Linked DNA regions of Homo sapiens. The protein of the gene in region 1 interacts with the protein of each later gene in a pairwise test. Each region holds a gene or a part of one and is shown in the gene's direction. Other genes may lie near its edges.

The links. Proteins that work in one complex are often made in the same cells at the same time.
Region 2: the proteins of DEF6 (region 1) and INTS2 interact in binary tests that used the Homo sapiens proteins (3 or more experiments, as listed by UniProt).
Region 3: the proteins of DEF6 (region 1) and RASAL3 interact in binary tests that used the Homo sapiens proteins (3 or more experiments, as listed by UniProt).

What each region holds. Positions count from the first base shown.
Region 1 is NC_000006.12:35,314,808-35,321,829, forward strand, and holds the end of DEF6 (differentially expressed in FDCP 6 homolog), read left to right. Parts: intron 1-3,083; coding exon 3,084-3,192; intron 3,193-3,365; coding exon 3,366-3,664; intron 3,665-4,716; coding exon 4,717-4,883; intron 4,884-5,011; coding exon 5,012-5,210; intron 5,211-6,076; coding exon 6,077-6,167; intron 6,168-6,379; coding exon 6,380-6,603; 3' UTR 6,604-6,964; downstream 6,965-7,022.
Region 2 is NC_000017.11:61,917,961-61,924,982, reverse strand, and holds part of INTS2 (integrator complex subunit 2), read left to right. Parts: coding exon 1-22; intron 23-3,155; coding exon 3,156-3,258; intron 3,259-5,469; coding exon 5,470-5,583; intron 5,584-7,022. UniProt on the Homo sapiens protein: Component of the integrator complex, a multiprotein complex that terminates RNA polymerase II (Pol II) transcription in the promoter-proximal region of genes.
Region 3 is NC_000019.10:15,461,523-15,469,454, reverse strand, and holds the start of RASAL3 (RAS protein activator like-3), read left to right. Parts: upstream 1-4,910; 5' UTR 4,911-4,950; intron 4,951-5,077; 5' UTR 5,078-5,096; coding exon 5,097-5,424; intron 5,425-7,847; coding exon 7,848-7,932. Other genes in the region: PGLYRP2 (N-acetylmuramoyl-L-alanine amidase isoform 2 precursor), read left to right, coding at 1-87. UniProt on the Homo sapiens protein: Functions as a Ras GTPase-activating protein. Plays an important role in the expansion and functions of natural killer T (NKT) cells in the liver by negatively regulating RAS activity and the down-stream ERK signaling pathway.

The sequences.
Region 1 (7,022 bases):
ATGCTTTTGAGGTCTTCCACAAAAAATCTCTTTGCCCAGACCAATGTCCTGGAATATTTCTCCAATGTTTTCTTCTAGTAGTTTCATAGTTTCAGGTCTTACATTTAAATGTTTAATCCATTTTTATTTGATTTTTTTATATGGTGAGAGATAGGGGTCTAGTTTCATTCATCTGCATGTGGTTATTTAGTTTTCCCAGAACCATTTATTGAAAGGACTGTTCTTTCCCCATTGTGTGTTCCTGGAGCCTTTGTCAAAAATGAGTTCTCTGTAAATGCATGGATTTATATCTAGGTTATCTATTCTGTTCCATTGGTCTTTGTGTCTCTTTTTATGCCAGTACTATGCTGATTTGGTTACTATAGCTTTGTACTACATTTTGTTTTTTTGTTTTATTTTAGAGACAGGATTTTTCTCTGGTGTCCAGGCTGGAGTGCAGTGGTATGATCATAGGTCACTGCAGCCTCAGTCTCCTTGGGCTCATGGGATCCTCCTGCTTCAGCCTCCTGAATAGCTGGGGCTATAGGTGTGTACCACCGTGGCCAGTTCGTAGTGTATTTTGAAGTCAGGAAATGTGATGCCTCCAGCTTCGTTCTTTTTACTCAGGCTTACTTTGGCTATTTGAGGTCTTTTGTAGTTCCGTATAAATTTTAGGATTTTTTTTCTATATCTATGAAGAATGCCTTTGCTATTTTGACAGAGATTGCACCAAATCTATAAATTGCTTTGGGTAATATTGTTATTTTAACAATATTAATTTTTCCAATACATAGCATGGGATATCTCTCCATTTTTTTGCATCCTCTTCAATTTATTTCATCAGTTTTATAGTTTTTCTTGTATAGATCTTTCACTTTGGTTACATCGATTCTTAGGTATTTTACATTCTTTGTAGCTGTTGGAAATGGGATTGCACTCAACTTCTTTTTCAGATTGTTTGCTGTTAGCGTATACAAATGCTACTGGGTTTTGTATGTTGAATTATCCTGCAACTTTACTGAATTCATTCATCAACTCTAACGGTTTTTTGTTGGAGTCCCTTTTTTTTTTTTTTTTTTTTTTGAGGAGGAGGAGGAGTCTTGCTTTTATCGCCCAGGCTGGAGTGCAATGGCACGATCTCAGCTCACTGCAACCTCCGCCTCCCGAGTTCAAGTGATTCTCCTGCCTCAGCCTCCCAAGTTAGCTGGGATTACAGGCACCTGCCACCACACCTGGCTAATTTTTTTTTTTTTTGTATTTTTAGTAGAGACAGCATTTCACCGTGTTGGCCAGGCTGGTCTCAAACTCCTGACCTCAGATGATCTGCCCACCTCGGCCTCCCAAAGTGCTGGGATTACAGGTATAAGCCACTGTGCCCGGCCTTTTTTTTTTTTTTAAGAGAGAGACAGGATCTCACTGTATTGCCCAGGCTGGTGTCGAACTCCTGGCCTCAAGCAATCCAACCACCTCAGCTTCCCAAAGTGTTAGGATTACAAGTGTAAGCCACCACGCCCCATGGAGTCTTTAGATTTTTCTAAGTAGAAGACCATGCCATCTGCAAACAAGGCTAATCTGACTTCTTCATTTCCAGTTTGGATGCCCTTCATTTCCTTCTCTTGCCTAATTGCTCTGGCCAGAACTCCCAATACTACATGGAATAAAAGTGGTAAAAGTGGGCATCCTTGTCTTGTTCCAGATCTTAGAGGAAAGGCTTTCAATTTTTCTCCATTTATTACAATGTTAGCTGTGAGTTTGTCATAGATAGCGTTTATTATTTTAAGGTATGTTGCCTCTATACCCAATATTTTAGGGCTTTTATAACACGATGTTGAATTTTTTTAGAAAGCTTTTTCAGGGTCTATTGAAATGATCATATATGGTTTTTGCTCTTGGTTCTGTTACTATGATGTGTCATGCATATTGATTTGTGCATGTTGAACCATCCTTGCATCCCTGGGATGAATCCCATCTGATCATGGTGAAAGATCTATACTCACAATATTGTACAACCATCACCACTATCTATTTCCAAAACTTTTTCATCACACCAAACAGAAACTCTGTACCTACCAAGCAATAACTCCTCATACTCCCTGACCCCAGCTCCTAGTATCCTCTATTCTGCTTTCTGTCTCCATGAATTTGCCTTTTCTAGGTATCTTACATAAATAGAATCATAAAATATTTGTCCCTTTGTGTCTGGTTTCTTTTACTTAGAAATGTTTTCAGGCTTCATCTATGTTGTCAAATATATCAGAATTTCATTCCTTTTTAAGGCTGGATAATATCCCTAACAGTGTGTGAGGATCTCAGTTTCTCCATTTCCTTACCAACAGTTGTTTTTCCTTTTAAAAAATTATCATAGCCATCCTAGGATCTGTCTAATTTTGTCACATAAGGTGTTACTGTGGAAAGGAGCACGGATCTACGCAGAAGTCCAAGCCTCATCACTAACAGACTAACAGTGTGAGGTGGACAATCCTGGAGCTCTTAGTGCCTCAGTTTCTTTCTCTGTAAAGTGGAGCTAATAATGCCTGCCTGGCAAAGCTGTATAGGTGGAGTGAAGATAATGATGCATATAAAATACTAGTACAGACTCTAGAATGTGGTAGCTATTATTTTCCACAGAATGTAAACTTAATGGAGGCAGAGATTTGGTCTGTTAGGCACACCTTAGTATCCCAACCCCTGGAGCAGTGAGTGGCACTCAGTAGGCACTCCAAAAACATCTGCGGAATGAATGAATGAACTCTTAACAAGCAGGGCTATGTGGAAGTGAGTTGTCATGGATAGTGAGGACCCTGTTACTGGCAGTGTTCAAGCGTGATCTGCATAAACACTGAGTGGCGATTATGTACTGGGCCCCGTGGAATAATAGCAAGATGGAAACGCACCCACCTAGCCTTCAAAGAGCAAAGGCTACAGAGTTGTGGGGACTTAAGTCCCCCATAACTTATGATGCAAGCCATGCAGGCTCCTGGCAGAGTGGGGTCCCCAGGGAAGATAGCCAGGAGGGCTAGGGGCTTGAGCTGGAGCACCCTTGGGGCAGGTGGGGCCCTGACCCAGTGAGGCCAGCCTGGCTGCGGCCACCTACCCTGTGCCAGGTGCTGCCAGACCGCGACGGAAAGCGCTGCATGTTCTGTGTGAAGACAGCCAACCGCACGTATGAGATGAGCGCCTCAGACACGCGCCAGCGCCAGGAGTGGACAGCTGGTGAGTGCTCGCTAGGTGGCTTGGGTCTGGGTGGTCCTTAGGCGCCTCATCTGTGAAAAGGGGGTGATAATACTTTGTCCAGCGGGAGGTTGGAGAGTGGACTCGGGAAACTCCTAAGGCCCCTTTCGGGCCGTGTGCGAGGATCCTACTGACCCGCTCCCGCTCTTCGGCAGCCATCCAGATGGCGATCCGGCTGCAGGCCGAGGGGAAGACGTCCCTACACAAGGACCTGAAGCAGAAACGGCGCGAGCAGCGGGAGCAGCGGGAGCGGCGCCGGGCGGCCAAGGAAGAGGAGCTGCTGCGGCTGCAGCAGCTGCAGGAGGAGAAGGAGCGGAAGCTGCAGGAGCTGGAGCTGCTGCAGGAGGCGCAGCGGCAGGCCGAGCGGCTGCTGCAGGAGGAGGAGGAACGGCGCCGCAGCCAGCACCGCGAGCTGCAGCAGGCGCTCGAGGGCCAACTGCGCGAGGCGGAGCAGGTGGGGTTAGCTCCCGGCGCCGGGGACGGGACCGGTGGGCTGGGAGGCTGGCCAGGGGCGGAGCGCCGGGGGCGGGGCCTGGGCAGAGGGCGGAGCTCCTGGGTTGAGGGGCGTGCACTGGGGTGGAGCTTGAAATGAGGGATTGTTGGGACAGAGTCCGCGGGTTTGAAAAAGAGATTTGGGATGGGGCTTCCGCCAGGGACAGAACCTGGGGCTAGGAAAGGGGTGTGGGGCGAGGTCCGAGCCCGTGGATGGATGGGGCCTGGTTCGGAGACCTTGGCTGTGGGTTGGGGCTTGGGCAGAAGGAGCCGTTGAAGACCGTGTGATTGGGGATTAGACTGGACCAAGTTTGGACTAGACTTGAACTAAGTTTACAGTGAAACCAGTTTGAGAGGCAAGCGGGACGCGTATGGAGGCGGACTAGGTGTGCAGAGGCAATTAGATTTAGGATTTAAGAAACCTGGATCTGGAGTCAGAAACACGTAGATTCAATCCTAGCTCTGCTTCTTACGAGCCCCGTGATCCCAGGCAAGTTCATTTTACTGAGCCTTATCAGTAAAATGCTAATGCTAATAGAACTTTGCTCACAGAGGTACGGTGAGGATTAAATGAGGAAACACTTGTAGTGTCCAGTAACTTTTTGTTGTAATAATTGTAGTTATAGTCACATCCTTCCTAGCATCAGCCATGATTATAACATATTATTATATATTATAATAATTATTAAGTTAGTGCTAGGAAGGAGATGACCATATTTTTATATCTTATTTAATTATATAATGTTGTTTAATTACATGTTATATAATTATGATTAAGGTTGGTACTAGGAAGGAAATAACTTGAGCCCGTTTCCCCCACGTGGCATCTGTTCACCGACCATTATCTGTTCCAGTCAGGCTCTCAGAAAGGGGTCAGATCAGGAAACCCCAACATGAAGGAGTTCCCCAGACCCTCACCCCTAGGCAGCTTAGCAACATGCCCACCCCCTCCTCCTCCGCCCCCACGTGCCCCTTTTGACCTGGCTCTTGGTCCACCACCTCCCCCCTCCACAGGCCCGGGCCTCCATGCAGGCTGAGATGGAGCTGAAGGAGGAGGAGGCTGCCCGGCAGCGGCAGCGCATCAAGGAGCTGGAGGAGATGCAGCAGCGGTTGCAGGAGGCCCTGCAACTAGAGGTGAAAGCTCGGCGAGATGAAGAATCTGTGCGAATCGCTCAGACCAGGTAGGCCTGAGGAACCTCTTCTGGTTCTCTCACCACCCCTCCTGGAACACACCCCAGTTTTCCTGCTTGCTGTGCACCTGCAAGGTGCCTTGGCACTAGAGGCTACACAGTACACACTCACCCGGCAGACTGCTGGAAGAGGAGGAAGAGAAGCTGAAGCAGTTGATGCAGCTGAAGGAGGAGCAGGAGCGCTACATCGAACGGGCGCAGCAGGAGAAGGAAGAGCTGCAGCAGGAGATGGCACAGCAGAGCCGCTCCCTGCAGCAGGCCCAGCAGCAGCTGGAGGAGGTGCGGCAGAACCGGCAGAGGGCTGACGAGGATGTGGAGGTGAGGCCTGGGGTGGGATGGGGTGGAGGCTGGCAGGGTGAGCTCATTAGGGCACAGGCTCTGGAGCCAGGCTGCCTTCCCTCAAACCCTGGCCCTAGCAGCTGCTGGCTGTGTGACTTTGGACAAATGCCCAAACTTCTTGGAGTTAGTCTCTCACCTGGGAAACTGGTAATAGCGTTGTTATGAAGATTAAATGAGATGATACATGATACTTAGTACGTAGTAAGTGCTGAAGAAACATTTGCTGCTATCTTTGTTCACATCATTATTAATCTGGGGAAAAATTTTTCCTTCTACCCTTCCAAGCCCCTGTCTTGCTATCCTTGTACTTTGGCTCTACTCCTTGGAGCTTTAATCTCCATAAATTCAAACACAGAAATATGGAACATAGAAAGGGAAAATTCCTCCATGATCCCCCCCACCTCACAACCACTGCTAATGGCTCCGTGAAATGTTGAACAGAGGTTCTTGGATTAGGTGCTGGAAAGGTGGTGTAGTGCAGTGGCTTAGAGCTCAAGTGTATCCCTGGGCAAGTCACTTAACCTCTTTTGAACTTTTTTGTTGTTAACTTCTGCTCTGGAAGTTAAATAAGATAATAAATATGCTTAGCACATCTTAGCTGCTCAATAAACGGAAACTATTATTATGGTTACATTTTATCTTTTGGAAGTCCATGAGTCCCATGAAATTGGAGGCAAACTCTATTCATGTATGTATTAATAACTCTATGAGCATATATGGTTTTTCTCTGGGGAGATGATCAGTAGTCTTGGTCAGATTTTAAGCAGCCTGCGAACCTGAAAAGATCAAGACTCCATGCCATGGATGATGGTTCTGATCACTCCCCACTGGCCCTGTCCCCACAGGCTGCCCAGAGAAAACTGCGCCAGGCCAGCACCAACGTGAAACACTGGAATGTCCAGATGAACCGGCTGATGCATCCAATTGAGCCTGGAGGTGAGAAGGAATAGACTCTGGAGCTTTCCCTGGAGCTGGGAGGGAGAAAGGAGGGAGAAAGGTCTCCCTGGGAGACCTCCAGATCTCCCAGGGCCAGCAAAAGCAGGACTGGCAGTCAGGAGGCTCCCCTCTCCTCTGAGGGCTGAGGCAAGGCCCCTCGCCTCTCACCTTTGCATGCCTTTCTCCTTACTTGCCTGCCTTCTCTCTGCCAGATAAGCGTCCGGTCACCAGCAGCTCCTTCTCAGGCTTCCAGCCCCCTCTGCTTGCCCACCGTGACTCCTCCCTAAAGCGCCTGACCCGCTGGGGATCCCAGGGCAACAGGACCCCCTCGCCCAACAGCAATGAGCAGCAGAAGTCCCTCAATGGTGGGGATGAGGCTCCTGCCCCGGCTTCCACCCCTCAGGAAGATAAACTGGATCCAGCACCAGAAAATTAGCCTCTCTTAGCCCCTTGTTCTTCCCAATGTCATATCCACCAGGACCTGGCCACAGCTGGCCTGTGGGTGATCCCAGCTCTTACTAGGAGAGGGAGCTGAGGTCCTGGTGCCAGGGGCCCAGGCCCTCCAACCATAAACAGTCCAGGATGGAACCTGGTTCACCCTTCATACCAGCTCCAAGCCCCAGACCATGGGAGCTGTCTGGGATGTTGATCCTTGAGAACTTGGCCCTGTGCTTTAGACCCAAGGACCCGATTCTTGGGCTAGGAAAGAGAGAACAAGCAAGCCGGGGCTACCTGCCCCCAGGTGGCCACCAAGTTGTGGAAGCACATTTCTAAATAAAAACTGCTCTTAGAATGAATTATTGGCTCAGGTCTGTCCATCTCTCCTGCCATTTCCTCCCTTCCTCCCTCAAGCCC
Region 2 (7,022 bases), on another chromosome or scaffold:
ACTGTTGGCAATTATGAACAAGGTGCATTTCTTTTAACCACAGCTCAAAGTATGCATGATTTGATGTCTATGTATAGGGAGGTAGACAGAAAAAGAGACAAGAAGTCAGGCAGGTTGAATTCTCCTCTACTCTTATTTTGTTCTTTTTTTTTGGAGACGGAGTTTCATTCTTATTGCCCAAGCTGGAATGCAGTGGTGTGATCTCAGCTCACTGTAATCTCTGTCTCCCAGATTCAAACGGTTCTCCTGCCTCAGCTTCATGAGTAGCTGGGATTACAGGTGCCCGCCACCACGCCCAGCTAATTTTTTGTATTTTTAGTAGAAATGGGGTTTCACCATGTTGACCAGGCTGGCCAGGCTGGTCTCGAACTCCTGAACTCAGGTGATCCACCCGCCTCAGCCTCCCAAAGTGTTGGGATTACAGGCATGGGTCACCGTGCCCGGCCTTCTCTACTTTTATTTCTATATATTTGTTTTCCTTTCAAAGCCTGAAAGGATATTATAAGTCTGCCTTAAAGTCCTTCTCTTAATTATCATTTTCTCTCATTTATACTTGTTCTGCATTTTCTATGAGAGGGATTTTTTTCCGTATGGAATCCATACACAGTGGCTTCTTGACATTTAGAAAGGGATTTATCTCAAGGCTTGTACAGATTATCAAATTTATTAGCAGATAATACCTTTATGGGATACAATTTCTCCCATAAAGTGTAATGAAGTAACATTTTCAATAACTGAATGTGAATAACTGAAAAATGTATGTGATTCATTTAGACACTGGATGAGCAGTAACAGCCTCATATATGACAGCAGAGGGGAGTATCAATGCTGAATTGAATGTAGGATGATTGGCTAGTCTCAATCACTAAATGACCAAAGTGCTTCTTTACACTAATGAAAGCTATTCAAGTTATCTTCTTTGTAAAATTATAGATTACTTAGGTCATAGACCTTTGGGTAATATAGTTAATTGAAACTCTGAATTTAAAATTTTTGAATGTCAAAGTTCTATCATATAAATAACTAAATTAGCTGGGCGTGGTGGTGCACGCCTGTAATCCCAGCACTTTGGGAGGCCGAGGTGGGCGGATCACCTGAGGTTGGGAGTTCAAGACCAGCCTGACCAACATGGAGAAACCCCGTTTCTACTAAAAAATACAAAATTAGCCAGGAGTGGTGGTGCATGCCTGTAAAAGAATTGCTTGAACCTGGGAGGTGGAGGTTGTGGTGAGCCGAGATTGTGCCATTGCACTCCAGCCTAGGCAACAAGAGTAAAACTGCCTCAAAAACAACAACCACCACCACCACAAAAACCCACTAAATTAGATCTTTATGTTTATTTACTGTTATAATTTTGGGGAGTCAGTTAATTTATAGTAAATAAAGTTTAGTTTTATAAATTGTGGACAAAAAGAGAAAGGACTAAATTCTGTTTTCATAGAAAATACTGGTAGAGAGGATTTTGGTGAGTTTTAGATAGTTTTTTTTTTTTTTTTTTTTTTTTTGGAGACAGAGTCTCACTCTGTCGCCCAGGCTGGAGTGCAGTGGCACAATCTCGGCTCACTGCAAGCTCCGCCTCCCGGGTTCACACCATTCTCCTGTCTCAGCCTCCCGAGTAGCTGGGACTACAGGTGCCCGCCACCATGCCTGGCTAATCTTTTGTATTTTTAGTAGAGACGGGGTTTCACCGTGTTAGCCAGGATGGTCTCGATCTCCTGATCTCGTGATCCGCCCTCCTTGGCCTCCCAAAGTGCTGGGATTACAGGCACGAGCCACTGCGCCCGGCCGAGTTTTAGACAGTTTTTAAGGTATGTTAAAAAATTTTTCTAAAATTTCCATCACCAATTATAATTTCCTTCTCTTTTTTACTATTTTGATACTTTTATTTATTTTTGTTTGTTTTTTTGAGACAGAGTTTCGCTCTTGTTGCCCAGGTTGGAGTGCAATGGTGTGATCTTGCTCACTGCAACCTTTGCCTCCTGGGTTAAAGCGATTCTCCTGCCTCAGCCTCCTGAGTAGCTAGAATTACAGGCACCCGCCACCATGCCTGCTAATTTTTGTATTTTTAGTAGAGACGGGGTTTCACCATGTTAGCCAGGCTGGTCTCGAACTCCTGACCTCAGGTGATCCTCCCACCTCGGCCTCCCAAAGTTCTGAGATTACAGGCATGAGCCACCATGCCCAGCCTATTTTGATACTTTTAAATTTCAGCCAAGAGTTTTCCTTCATCTTTTCCGTAATACCTCACTTGGTGACTCTAATAAATAAGTGACCTTTCTCCTCTGGGAGATTTCCAATTTTTTAGTTTGGCACTCTTCATTATATAGGAAATATGGTTATGAAACTATTGTGCAGAATTTCCAAAAAGCTTAGTAGATTTTGTTATCTAAACTTTAATTCTTTGTTTTTCCAACAGTTTATTCAGAATTGAACACGTATATATATATATATATATATATATATATATATATGTTTGTTTGTTTTCTTTTTTCTTTTTCTTTTTTTTTTTTTTTTTGAGACGGAGTCTCATTCTGTCTCCCAGTGTGGAGTGCAGTGGTGCTATCTCGGCTCACTGCAGCCTCCACCTCCCGGGTTCAAGCGATTCTCCTGCCTCAGCCTCCTGAGTAGCTAAGATTACAGATGGCCACCATGCTTGGCTAATTTTTATATTTTTAGTAGAGACAGGGTTTCACCATGTTGGCCAGGCTGGTCTCGAACTCCTGACCTCAGTTGATCCACCCATCTTGGCCTTCCAAAGTGCTGGGATTACAGGCGTCAGCCACTGCACCTGGCCATGAATTTATATTTGTTAAACTGCTTTAGGTTGACTGTTCTTGGCTTTTTTAAAGCAGTTTATGTAGGCTGCATTTGTAGTTCATTTCTTTGGCTTGCCTTATCCTTTAATTCCAGTTGTCTCCAAATATTTAGATAGAAATCAGTTCTTGAGATTGATACTGCTATATCTGAATAATAATTAACATGACTGCTGTGTGTGGTTAAATTGGTTGAAATTGATTGAATACTGCATATTCTGCTGTGGTATATTAGTGATACATTAAGAGACATAATCTGTGAGCTCAAGAAATAATTATAAAAATAGGGATTTAATTATCTGAAATTAATAGAGTTTATATCTTTTTTTTTTCTTTTTTAAGGTGTCTGAGTCCAACGGAGAATTTTTTTTCAAGTCTTCTGAACTTTTTGAGAGTCCAGTATATTTGGAGGAAGCTGCAGATGTACTTTGTATTTTACAAGCAGGTACTGTACTGAGTGCTAAGATGGATTTCATATATAGTTTCTTGTTAAATGATACTGTGTAACTTCTTAGCCTGGTATGCTGTGTTATTTTAGGGATCATATAACAAACATGTTATGTGATTTTAAGTCAAAAGTGACTAATAGTTGGACAATGATTAAGTAAATTATATTATTTTCATAGTGTGACATATTATGCAGACATTAACATGGTATCTTTGATTTAATGACTTTAATGCTCGTTAATGATTTTGGAAAATGTTTACAATATGTTAAGTGAAAAAAGCAAAGGGCAAAGTGTTAAGTAGACTATAATCCCAGTTTTGTTAAAAGTTCAAGAACAATACCCTTGATGAATTAAAATAAAATACTTATTTTTTTTTAGAGACAGAGTCTTGCTCTGTTGCTCAGGCTGGAGTACAGTGGCAGGATCATAGCCCACTGGCTTGAATTCCTGGACTCAAGGGATCCTCCCACTTCAGCCTTCTGAGTAGCTGGGACTACAGGCCTGTGAAAACATTTTTTATTAACTTTGAATTCTGGGATTAGGGCAGATTTTAATTTTCTTCTTCGTACCTTTTTGTATTTTCCAGATTGTATATAATAGGTGTGAATGATAGAAATAAAAGAGGACAGAAAAATGTAAAGAAGGCTGTCGCTCATGCCTGTAATCCCAGCACTTTGGGAGGCCGAGGCAGGAGGATCACTTGAGCTCAAGAGTTCAAGACCAGTCTGGGCAACATAGTGAGACCTTGTCTCTACCAAAATGAAAAAAATTAGCCTAGTGTGGTGGTGTATACCTGTAGTCCCAGCTGCATGGGAAGCTGAGGCAGGAGGATGGCTTGAGCCTGGGAGATTGAGGCTGTAGTGAGCCATGATTGTGCCATTGCACTCTGTCCAGAGTGAGACCTTGTCTTTTTTTTTTGAGATGGAGTCTCACTCTGTCACCCAGGCTGGAGTGCAGTGGTGTGATCTCGGCTCACTGCAACCTCCGCCTCCGGGGTTCAAGTGATTCTCCTTCCTTAGCCTCCTGAGTAGCTGGGATTACAGGCATGCGGCACCATGCCCAGCTAATTTTGTATTTTTAGTGGCGACGAGGTTTCACCATGTTGGCCAGGCTGGTCTCGAATTCTTAACCTTGTGATCTGCCTGCCTCAGCTTCCCAAAATGCTGGGATTATAGGCATAAGCCACTGTGCCTGGCTGCAGACCTTTTCTTAAAAAAAAAAAAAAAAAAAAAAAGTATAGGCCAGGCACGGTGGCTCACGCCTGTAATCCCAGCATTTTGGGAGGCCGAGGTGGGTGGATCACCTGAGGTCAGGAGTTGGAGACCAGCCAGGTCAACATGGTGAAACCCTGTCTCTACTAAAAATACAAAAATTAGCCTGGTGTGGTGGCAGGCTTCTGTAATCCCAGGTATTCGGGCGGCTGAGGCAGGAGAATCGCTTGAACTCTGGAGGCGGAGGTTGCGGTGAGCTGAGATTGCGCCATTGCATTCCAGCCTGGGGGACAAAAGCGAGACTTCGTCGCAAAAAAAAAAAAAAAAAAGCAAATAAGATTTTCGTGAAAATAACTCTTTAGACCAGTTCTATAAAATAAAATTTCCTGTACTGTTCTATGCTATGCTGTCCAGTGTTCTTTGTGGCTGTGGATTACTTGAAATGTGGCTAGTGTGATTGAGGAACTGAACTGTTTTTAATATAAGTATCCTTATGTTGCTAGTGGGTATCCTACTGGACAGCTTGGTTCTAGACTATGAAAAGAAAGTACTTTATTTTAGATGACATTTGTGAAATGTCAAAAGATATTTAATAATACAATGAAATGTCATTTTTGGTTGGGCATGGTGGCTCATGCCTGTAATTCTAGGAGTTTAGGAGGCTGAGGCAGGAGGATTGCTTGAGCCCAGGAGGTTGAGGCTGCAGTGAGCTATAATCACACCACTGCACTGTAGCCTGGGCAACAAAGCAAGACCCTGTCTTAAAGAAGAAAAAAAGAAATATCACTCTTTAACACTGGGTCCAGGCATGGTGGCTTATGCCTGTAATCTTAGCACTTTGGGAGGCTGAGGCTGGAGGATCACTTGAGGCCAAAGTTTGAGACCCACCTGGGCAACACAGTGAGATTCAGTCTCCACAGAAAATAAAAAAAATTAGCTGGGTGTGGTGGAGTGCACCTGTTAACAAAGACTAACACTGACTTTGTTTTCTTGTAGAGCTCCCTTCCTTGCTCCCTATAGTTGATGTAGCTGAAGCTTTGCTACATGTTAGAAATGGTGCCTGGTTCTTGTGTCTCTTGGTGGCCAATGTTCCTGATAGTTTTAATGAAGGTAAATATGATTCTAATATGGTATATTGAAAAGACTTGCTTGGACATGTACAGGACCTATCTTTTTGACCTAAGAAGAAACATTAATGGGATTTTATTTGAGATTTTATCTTTTGAAAGTTTGTTAGTATGTATAAAGAAATATTGAGTTCACAAATTGTATTGAGTTTAAAGATCAGGCTGGGCGCAGTGGCTCACACCTGTAATCCCAGCACTTTGGGAGGCCGAGGCGGGCAGATCACAAGGTCAGAAGTTTGAGACCAGCCTGGCCACTATGGTGAAACCCCATCTCTACTAAAAATACAAAAATTAGCTGGATGTGGTGGTGGGTGCCTGTAGTCCCAGCTACTGGGGAGGCTGAGGCAGAAGAATCGCTTGAACCTGGGAGGTGGAGGTTGCAGTGAGTCGAGATCGCACCACTGCACTCCGGCCTGGGCGACAGGGCGAGACTCCGTCTCAAAAAAAAAAAAAAAAAAACCCCAAGGAACTAGAAGATGTAATATCTATAATCAGGGATCAAAGAAGATACATGTATCAGTGAAATATCAAGAGAGCAATACGGGATATGTATAATGAGAAATGCTAGGAATCAGACCTTTGTTTTTTAGCCCTACTGCTGTCAGTTTACAGAGAAGTATAAAGTAGAAATTGAGAAAAATCGACTACATTTTTTCACCTCTATTTAAAACTTACAGTGATTGAAGGTTGTTGTTTGGGTATGAGTGATATAAAAATAAAAACATTTTGTTGAGCAAGGTAGTTTGTGAATTAGGAGCCTGGGAGGAAAAAGTACTGGAGTTATAATTCCTGATTTTGTCATTCACTTATTGTGTGAGCTCTATCAAAATACTTCTCATCTGGCTGGGCACGGTGGCTCATGCCTGTAATCCCAGCACTTGGGGAGGCCGAGGTGGGTGCATCATTTCAGGCCAGGAGTTTGAGACCAGCCTGGCCAACATAGTGAAACCCCGTCTCTACTAAAAATACAAAAATTAGCTGGGCTTGGTGGTGGATGCCTGTAATCTCAGCTACTCAGGAGGCTGAGACAGGAGAATTGCTTCAATCTGTGAGGTGGAGGTTGCAGCGAGCCGATATGTGCCACTGCACTCCAGCCTGGGCAACAGAGTGAGACTCTGTCTTAAACAAACAAACAAACCAAAATACTTCTCATCTGTAAAATGGAGATATTGATAGTGTAATAGTTCCCTGACTTTTTTAAGAGATTTATTGAATATCAGATGATATGTAAAAACTCTTTGTAAACTGTGTCCTTGCCGATTTTTTGTCAACTTGTTCTGTCAATTACTGAGAGAGGAGTTTTGATGTCTCCAGACATAATTGTGGATTTGCCTATTTCTTCTTTTTGTTCTGTCAGTTTTTGCTTCATGTATTTCAAAGCTCTTTTGTTGGGTTTATATGCATTTAGGATGATTATATCTT
Region 3 (7,932 bases), on another chromosome or scaffold:
GGCAACATCCCTGATCCTGTGACTTCTGCCTATGCAGCCTCAGCTCAGCCCCAGACCCAGCCAGCCTGTCCTTTCCCCAGCTCCTAATACCTCTACCTTTCCAGCCAAGGCATGGACCCTGACACCTGCCAACAGCCCCTCTGCCCTCACAACCTCAGCCTGGCCTTCATGACTTCTCTACCCAAGTCACAACCTGTCAGGCTGCACCACCTCATCCTGGCCCGCCGAACCTTGACCTCACCCCTGCCCCTACCCGAAGGCCCTCTGTCCACACAACATGAACCTAGGCTGTGACCTTTTGCCTTCACAACCTCTGTCCAGTCCTTAATCCTGTGTTGCAATTCTCTGTCCAGACAATCTCAACTCTGAGGTTGCTTGTTTCGTCCCTGACTCCTTAACCCCTGATGACAACTCTTATGCCAGCACAACTTTGACCTGATGACCTCATCCCAGCCCTTGATCGCCATCACTAAAACAATTTTAGAATCACACCTGGACAATCTCGTGCTACCTACATACTGCCACTCCATTTCATTAAGCTATTGACTAGCACATCCATCTCGGCCTATAGTTGGCTTTGTCCTCACTCTCTCACTTTGGGCCACTGTCCCCTCCCTGATCCAGGGTTCCACCACCAGGAGGGCAGACCCAGCCACATACCACAACCACCCCCAAGCCTCACACTCCCTTGTCTTTTTCCAGACTGTTAAGCCAAGACCTGCCAGGAGTGTCTCTAAGAGATCCAGGAGGGAGCCACCCCCAAGGACCCTGCCAGCCACAGACCTCCAATAAAGACAGCATGGAAACAAAGTCTCTGTTCATGCATCATCATGCATTGTCTTAGTTTGGGTCTTCCCAAAAGCAGACCTTAAGACAATAATTCCAGTACAAGTAGTTTATTGAGAGGAGATCCCAGGGCAGGGCACGGCAGCTCACATCTGTAATCCCAGCACTTTGGGAGGCTGAGGCGAGGGGATCACCTGAGCTCAGGAGTTCGAAAACAACCTGGGCAATAGAGTGAAATCTCATCTCTGCAAAAAAAAATTTTCAAATTATCCAGGCATAGCCAGGCACGGTGGCTCATGCCTGTAATCCCAGCATTTTGGGATGCTGAGGAGGGTGGATCGCCTGAGCTCAGGAGTTCAAGACCAGCCTGGCCAACATGACAAAACCCCGTCTCTAACAAAAATACAAAAAATTAGCCAGGAGTGGTGCCACACACTTGAGGTAGGAGGATCACTTGGGCCTAGGAGGCAGAGGTTGCCGTGAGCTGAAATCACACCACTGCACTCCAGCCTGGGAGACAGAGCAAGACCCTGTCTCAAAAAAAGAAAAAATTATCCAGGTACAATGTTGTGTGCCTGCAGTCCCAGCTACTCCGGAGGCTGAGGTGGGAGGATTGCTTGGGCTGGGAGGTCGAGGCTGCAGTGAACCATGATTGCGTCACTGTACAGCAGCCTGGAGAAGAGAGTGAGAGCTTGTCTCAAAGAAAAAAAAAGAAAGAAAGGAAGAAAGAAAGAACGAAAGAAAGAGGAAAGAAGGGAGAAAGGGAGGAAGGGAGGAAGGAAGGAAGGAAGGAAGGAAGGAAGGAAGGAAGGAAGGAAGGAAGGAAGGAAAAAAAAAAAAAGAAAAAGAAAAAATAGAGAGGTGAACAACCCAGGTACCGATGCAGGGAACTGGAGGCAGCCAGGGAATAATGTGTTTTCAAGCAAGTTTCCACTGTAGGCAAGAGAGCTCAGTCTCACTTCGAAGCCCTGAGGGAGAGCATAGGACACATACCTGAGTCATCCCACACAAGGGTTGAGGGAGCTGGGGTATTTATACACTAATTCCCACCAGTTATTATGTGAGGGCTGCTCTCAGGGACATGTTAATTCACTGGCACTTTTGGAATGCTTGTTACACAGACATAGTGGACTCCATCTGCTAGATACAAATGGCTGCAAATGTCACCTCCTCAGGGAAGTCCTCCCTGATTTTTCCAGCTCAAAGAGTGGCATTTTTGCTCAGCATTCACTGCAGCCTATTTCCTTCTAGGTCCTCCTTACCAGCTAGAAATGTCTCATGTATGAGTTTAGGATCTTATCTACCTCCATCATCTGTGAGCTCCAGGAAGGCAGAAACCAAGTTTGGTTAGTTCTCTGCGGCCTCTCCAGCACCTAGCATGTAATAGGCACTCGGGAAACATTTGTTGACTAGACAAAGGCTTACATGAATCTTTTGAAACTGATATTATCGTCTTGTACAAATAAGGAAAACGAGGCTCAGAGAGAGGAAATGACTTGTCTGAGGTCACACAGAGGGAGAGGGGCCAGCTGGTACTCGGCTCCTGGACCGGATTTATGCTGACTCATTTATTCCTCAGAATGGCATTTACTTACCTCTGGCTTTCAAGTAAACATCTGTGGAAGCCTAACAGAGATACAAGAAAGTGCTCCCAAGGGCACAGCTTGATGAATTTTCACAACAGCACACAGCCATGTAACCAGGACCCAGCTCAAGAAATAGAACATGTTAAGCCAAGCGTGGTGGCACACATCTGCAGTCCCAGCCACTACAGAGGCTGAAGCAGGAGGACTGCCTGAGCCCAGGAGTAGGAGACCAGCCTGGGCAACATAGTGAGACCCTGTCTCTTTACAAAAAAAAAAAAATTAAAATTAGCCAGGCATGGTGGCATGCACCTGCAGTCCCAGCTACTCAGGAGGCTGAGGCAGGAGGATTGCCTGAGCCCAGGAATTCAAGGTTGCAGTGACCCACAATCATGCCTGGGAATAGCCACTGTACTCCTGCCTGGGTGACAGAACAAGGCTTCGTCTCTCTGGGCACAGAGGCTGATGCTATTCCTGTATTCCCAGCACTTTGGGAGGCTGAGGCATGAGGATTGCTTGAGCCCAGGAGTTCAAGACAAGCATGGGCAACATAGTGAGGCCCCATCTCTACAAAAAACAAACAAACAAAAAGTTAAAAATTAGTCAGGTAGCATGCACCTGTAGTCCCAGCTACTCGAGAGCCTGAGGTAGGAGGATCGCTTGAGCCCAGGAGGTTGAGAATGCAGTGAGCTGTGATTGTGCCACTGCACTCCAGCTTGGCCAACAGAGCAAGACCCTGTCTCAAAAAAAAATCTTATTAAAAAAAAAAGAACATGCTAAATTTGTGTTATATGAATTTTACCTCAATTAAAAAAAAAATAGGCCAGGCATGGTAGCATGTGCCTATTATCCCAGCTACTTAGGGGGCTGAGGTGGGAGGATCACTTGAGGCCAGGAGTTCAAGAACAGCCTGGGCAACAAAGCAAGACCCTCATCTCAACAACAACAAAAAAATTGTTTTTAATAAGCCAGGTGTGGTGGCATGCAGCTGTAGTCCCAGCTACTCAGGAGGCTAAGGCGAGAGGATCTCTTGAGCCCAGGAGTTAGAGGTTACAGAGAGCTATGATGGCACCACTGCACTCCAGCCTGGATGACAGACCTCATCTACAAAAAATAATAATATTCATATTATGTATAATGTAATATTATTTATATTACTATGTAATATAAATATTATATTTTTATTTTATGAGATCTATATTATTTTTATAGACCTCATTTATAAATAATAATAATAATAAGGGCCGGGCACGGTGGCTTACGCCTATAATACCAGCACTTTGGGAGGCCAAGGCGGGCAGATCATTTCAGGTCAGGAGTTCAAGACCAGCCTGACCAACATGGTGAAACCCCGTCTCTACTAAAAATACAAAAAAATTAGGCAGGCATGGTGGTGAATACCTGTAGTCCCAGCTACTCAGGAGGCTGAGTAGGGAGAATCACTTGAATCCGGGAGGCAGAGATTGCAGTGAGCCAAGATCGTGCCACTGCACACCAGCCTGGGAGACAGAGCGAAACTCCTTCTCGATAAATAAATCAATTAATAATAATAAGAGTAATAATAAATCTTGCCATCTTCCAGAAGCCCCCCTTGTACCCTCTTCCCAGCCACCAGTGCCTCCAAAAGAAACTGATACCCTGCTTGTTAGACATGGTTTTGCCTGCTTTAGGACTTTATGTAAATGGAATCACAAAGTGTATACTCTTCATTGTTTTGGGGTTTTTAAATTTATTTATTATTGCTTTTTAGAGATGGGGTCTCCCGAGGGCAGGGAGGGGAAAAAGAAAAAAAAAAGTTAGATATGAGGTCTCCCTATGTCACCCAGACTGGAGTGCACTGCCTATTCACAGGCATGATCACAGCTCACTGCAGCCTCGAACTCCTGGCCTCAAGCGATCCTCCTCCCTCAGCCTCCTGAATAGCTCAGATTACTGGCATTTTATGGCTTTGGTTTTGGTTTTGGCTCAACATTGTTTGTGATTCACCCAAGTTAAATCATTCTTTAGTTTGTTCTCACTGCTGTATGATATTCTGCTGTGCGAAGAGATCACAATTTATTCCTTCTCCCACTAATGGGTACTTAGGCTGCTTCCAATGTGGGGCTATTATGCATTGTGCTGGGGGGGCATATCTATTGGACGTCTACCTAGCAATGGAATTGCTGAGTCAGAGAAGATCCAGCTAGTAGTGTTAGTAGATCCTGCCAAACCGTTTCCCAACATGAGTGAATGGGTCTACACTCCGGCCAACTGTGGATTAGAGTTCTAGGTGCTTTGTATTCTCGCCAGCATTTGTTCAGCCTGTACTCATTTTGCAGAGAAGGCAACGGAGGCTCAGAGAGAGGGGCAAGTGCTGCCTCCCCGTCAGGGAGGCAGTCTGGGTCCTTCTTGCTAGAAGCCTGGTAACCCACCTCCTCTCTTCTCCTCCCTCGAACCTCCAGCAACCTGCCCGCACTGTGCCCTCCCAGCCTGGCTGTGGGGTGGGGTGGGACAGAGAGGGTCACGTGGAGTTGGGTTCCGAGGGAGGAAGCCAGGCGGGGTGCAGACGGCTGCTGATTCTGGGGCTGGTCAGGAAACCAAGGTAAGGGAGGGAGTGGAGGTGGGGGCAGGGGGATTCCTGGAGGCAGAGCTGAGGGTGGGGAGGGGGCCGAGATGAGGGCAGTATGTGGACAGACACTGGGCACTACTGTCACTCTCTCGTCCCCCAGGAGACCCCCCCCCCCAACCATGGACCCACCGTCGCCAAGCCGGACCTCCCAAACCCAGCCCACAGCCACCTCTCCGCTGACTTCCTACCGCTGGCACACAGGGGGCGGTGGGGAGAAGGCGGCTGGAGGGTTCCGCTGGGGCCGCTTTGCTGGCTGGGGCAGGGCCCTGAGCCACCAGGAGCCCATGGTCAGCACCCAGCCAGCCCCTCGCTCGATATTCCGTCGGGTCCTATCTGCGCCTCCCAAGGAGTCACGGACCAGTCGCCTTCGACTCTCCAAGGCCCTCTGGGGGAGGCATAAGAACCCACCGCCGGAGCCAGACCCGGAGCCGGAGCAGGAGGCCCCAGGTACATGGTTCCCCCACCCTGAGCTTGGGCCGGGCTGGGAAGCCGGATGCTTGGGTTTTGTCTGCCTCCGGAGCATCAACCATACAGACACAGGAAGTTGTGGGGAGTGCAAAAGCCCAGCAGGAAGCCGCTGGGGCCCAGCTACCCTGTTCCCTCTTTCCCCCTAAAGAGGGTAGGAGGAGTTGCCGGGGTCCTGTGGGCAGAGGGTCCATCTGAGGAAGGAACAGTGAATGTAAACCCGTGATAGTATTGTCCAGAGGCTAAACGGCTCTTGGCCCCAACGGGTCTCTCCTTCAATGGCTCAGGCCCATCCTTTCCTACCTGGATATCCATCTTCAGCCTGCCTCCTACTCTCCTACCTTCTAGCTTCCGTGTCTTTGTTCTGAGCCCTTAAGCCTCAGCCTCTCCATCAGTTCAGTGAGAATAATGATCTCCATTTTGGAGAGTATATAATTTTATTTGCTCATATTCATTCATTTATTCAAGCAGAGGTTTGTTGAGCTTCTATTGTATGTGCCAGGCCCTGATTTAGGCACTGAGGACACACTAGTGAAAGAGACAGATGACCCTCCCTGCCCCATGGAGCTCACAGTGTAGTGGAATTGACAGGAAATCCATCAACAAGAAAATGACAGATGGGCCAGGCATGATGGCTCACACCTGTAATCCCAGCACTTTGGGAGGCCAAGGTGGGTGGATCACCTGAGCTCAGGAGTTCGAGACCAGCCTGGCCAACATGGCAAAACCCTGTTTCTACTAAAAATACAAAAAAAAAAAAGTATCTAGGCATGGTGGCACATACCTGTACTCCCAGCTACTCAGGAGGCTGAGGCAGGATAATCGCTTGAACCCGGGAGGTGGAGGTTGCAGTGAGCTGAGATTGCACTACTGCACTCCCGCCTGGGCGACAGAGGGAGACTCCATCTCAATGGAAGAAAAAAAAAAAAAAGAAAGAAAAAAAATGACAGATGGTGCTAAGTGTCACACAGGGGGATCTAGAAGAGTAATGGATATCACAAGAATTAGGGCTCAGGAATGTAACACTAGCCTAGGGCCCAGCATTTTTTTTATTTTTTTTTTGAGATGGAGTCTCGCTCTGTTGCCCAGGCTGGAGTGCAGTGGCGCGATCTCGGCTCACCGCAAGCTCCGCCTCCTGGGTTCACGCCATTCTCCTGCCTCAGCCTCCTGAGCAGCTGGGACTACAGGAACCCGCCACCATGCCCAGCTAATTGTTGTATTTCTAGTAGAGACAGGGTTTCACTGTGTTAACCAGAATGGTCTCGATCTCCTGACCTCATGATCCGCCCGCCTCAGCCTCCCAAAGTGCTGGGATTACAGGCGTGAGCCACCGCGCCCGGCCCCAGGCCCAACATATTTTAAGTGATCCGTTAATAAGCGGGAGTTATCATTTATTGCTCCTGGTGGTAAAAACAAGGGAACAGACAGGCAATCTGGGAGGGCTAATTCAGCCCTCCTATTTCCTGGAAGCTCATTTAATTCTCACTGCTTATATTCCCATTTTGTTTTTGTTTTTGTTTTTGTTTTGAGACACAGTCTCACTTCCTTGCCCAGGCTGGAGTGCAGTGGCGGAATCTCAGCTCACTGCAACCTCTGCCTCCCAAGTTCAAGAGATTCTCCTGCCTCAGCCTCCTGAGTAACTGGGATTACAGGCATGTGCCACCACGCCTGGCTAATTTTGTATTTTTAGTAGAGACGGGGTTTCTCCATGTTGGTCAGGCTGGTTTTGAACTCCCAGCCTCAGATGATCCACCCGCCTAGGCCTCCCAAAGTGCTAGGATTACAGGTGTGAGCCACAGAGCCCAGGCACATCAGGCTATTTTTTAAAGACAGGGTCTTGTTATGTTGCCCAGGCTGGTCTCAAACTCCTGGTCTCAAGCAATCTGCCCCACCTCGGCCTCCCAAATGTTGGGATTACAGGCATGAGCCACCTTGCCCAGCCCCTGTCCTGTTTTTTAACCTCTTGGACCCACATAATGTCTTGGTTAAGAGAAGAATGCAAAAAAAACAAAAAAACAAAAAAAGAGAGAGAGAGAAGAATGCTTGTGACTGAAGCCCAGCCCAACCACTCACAAACTGTGTGACCCTGAGCAAGTCACTCAACCTCTCTGAGCCTGTTATCATAGCCCTTTGAATGGCTTTTGGAGGATTCAATGCAAGAAGGTGTGTGGAGTGGTATACAGGGTACTGGGCACATGGTAGGTGAGTTGTGTCTGCTACCCATGGTTAGTGGGGACAAGGCCCAGACAGCGATGAAAGCTTGCCCAAGGTCATACAGTCTGATACGGCTGCTGGGGTGGGGGGCACCTAGGAGGGAACCCACCATGAGCCTTCGGGAATGGAAAGGGTAGCCTGAGGGAGAGAAAACGTCTCTTAAGTCCCCCAGTGCCTCCTCTTCTTCCCAGAGCTGGAGCCGGAGCCAGAGCTGGAGCCCCCTACCCCACAGATCCCTGAGGCCCCCACACCCAACGTGCCTGTCTGGGACATTGG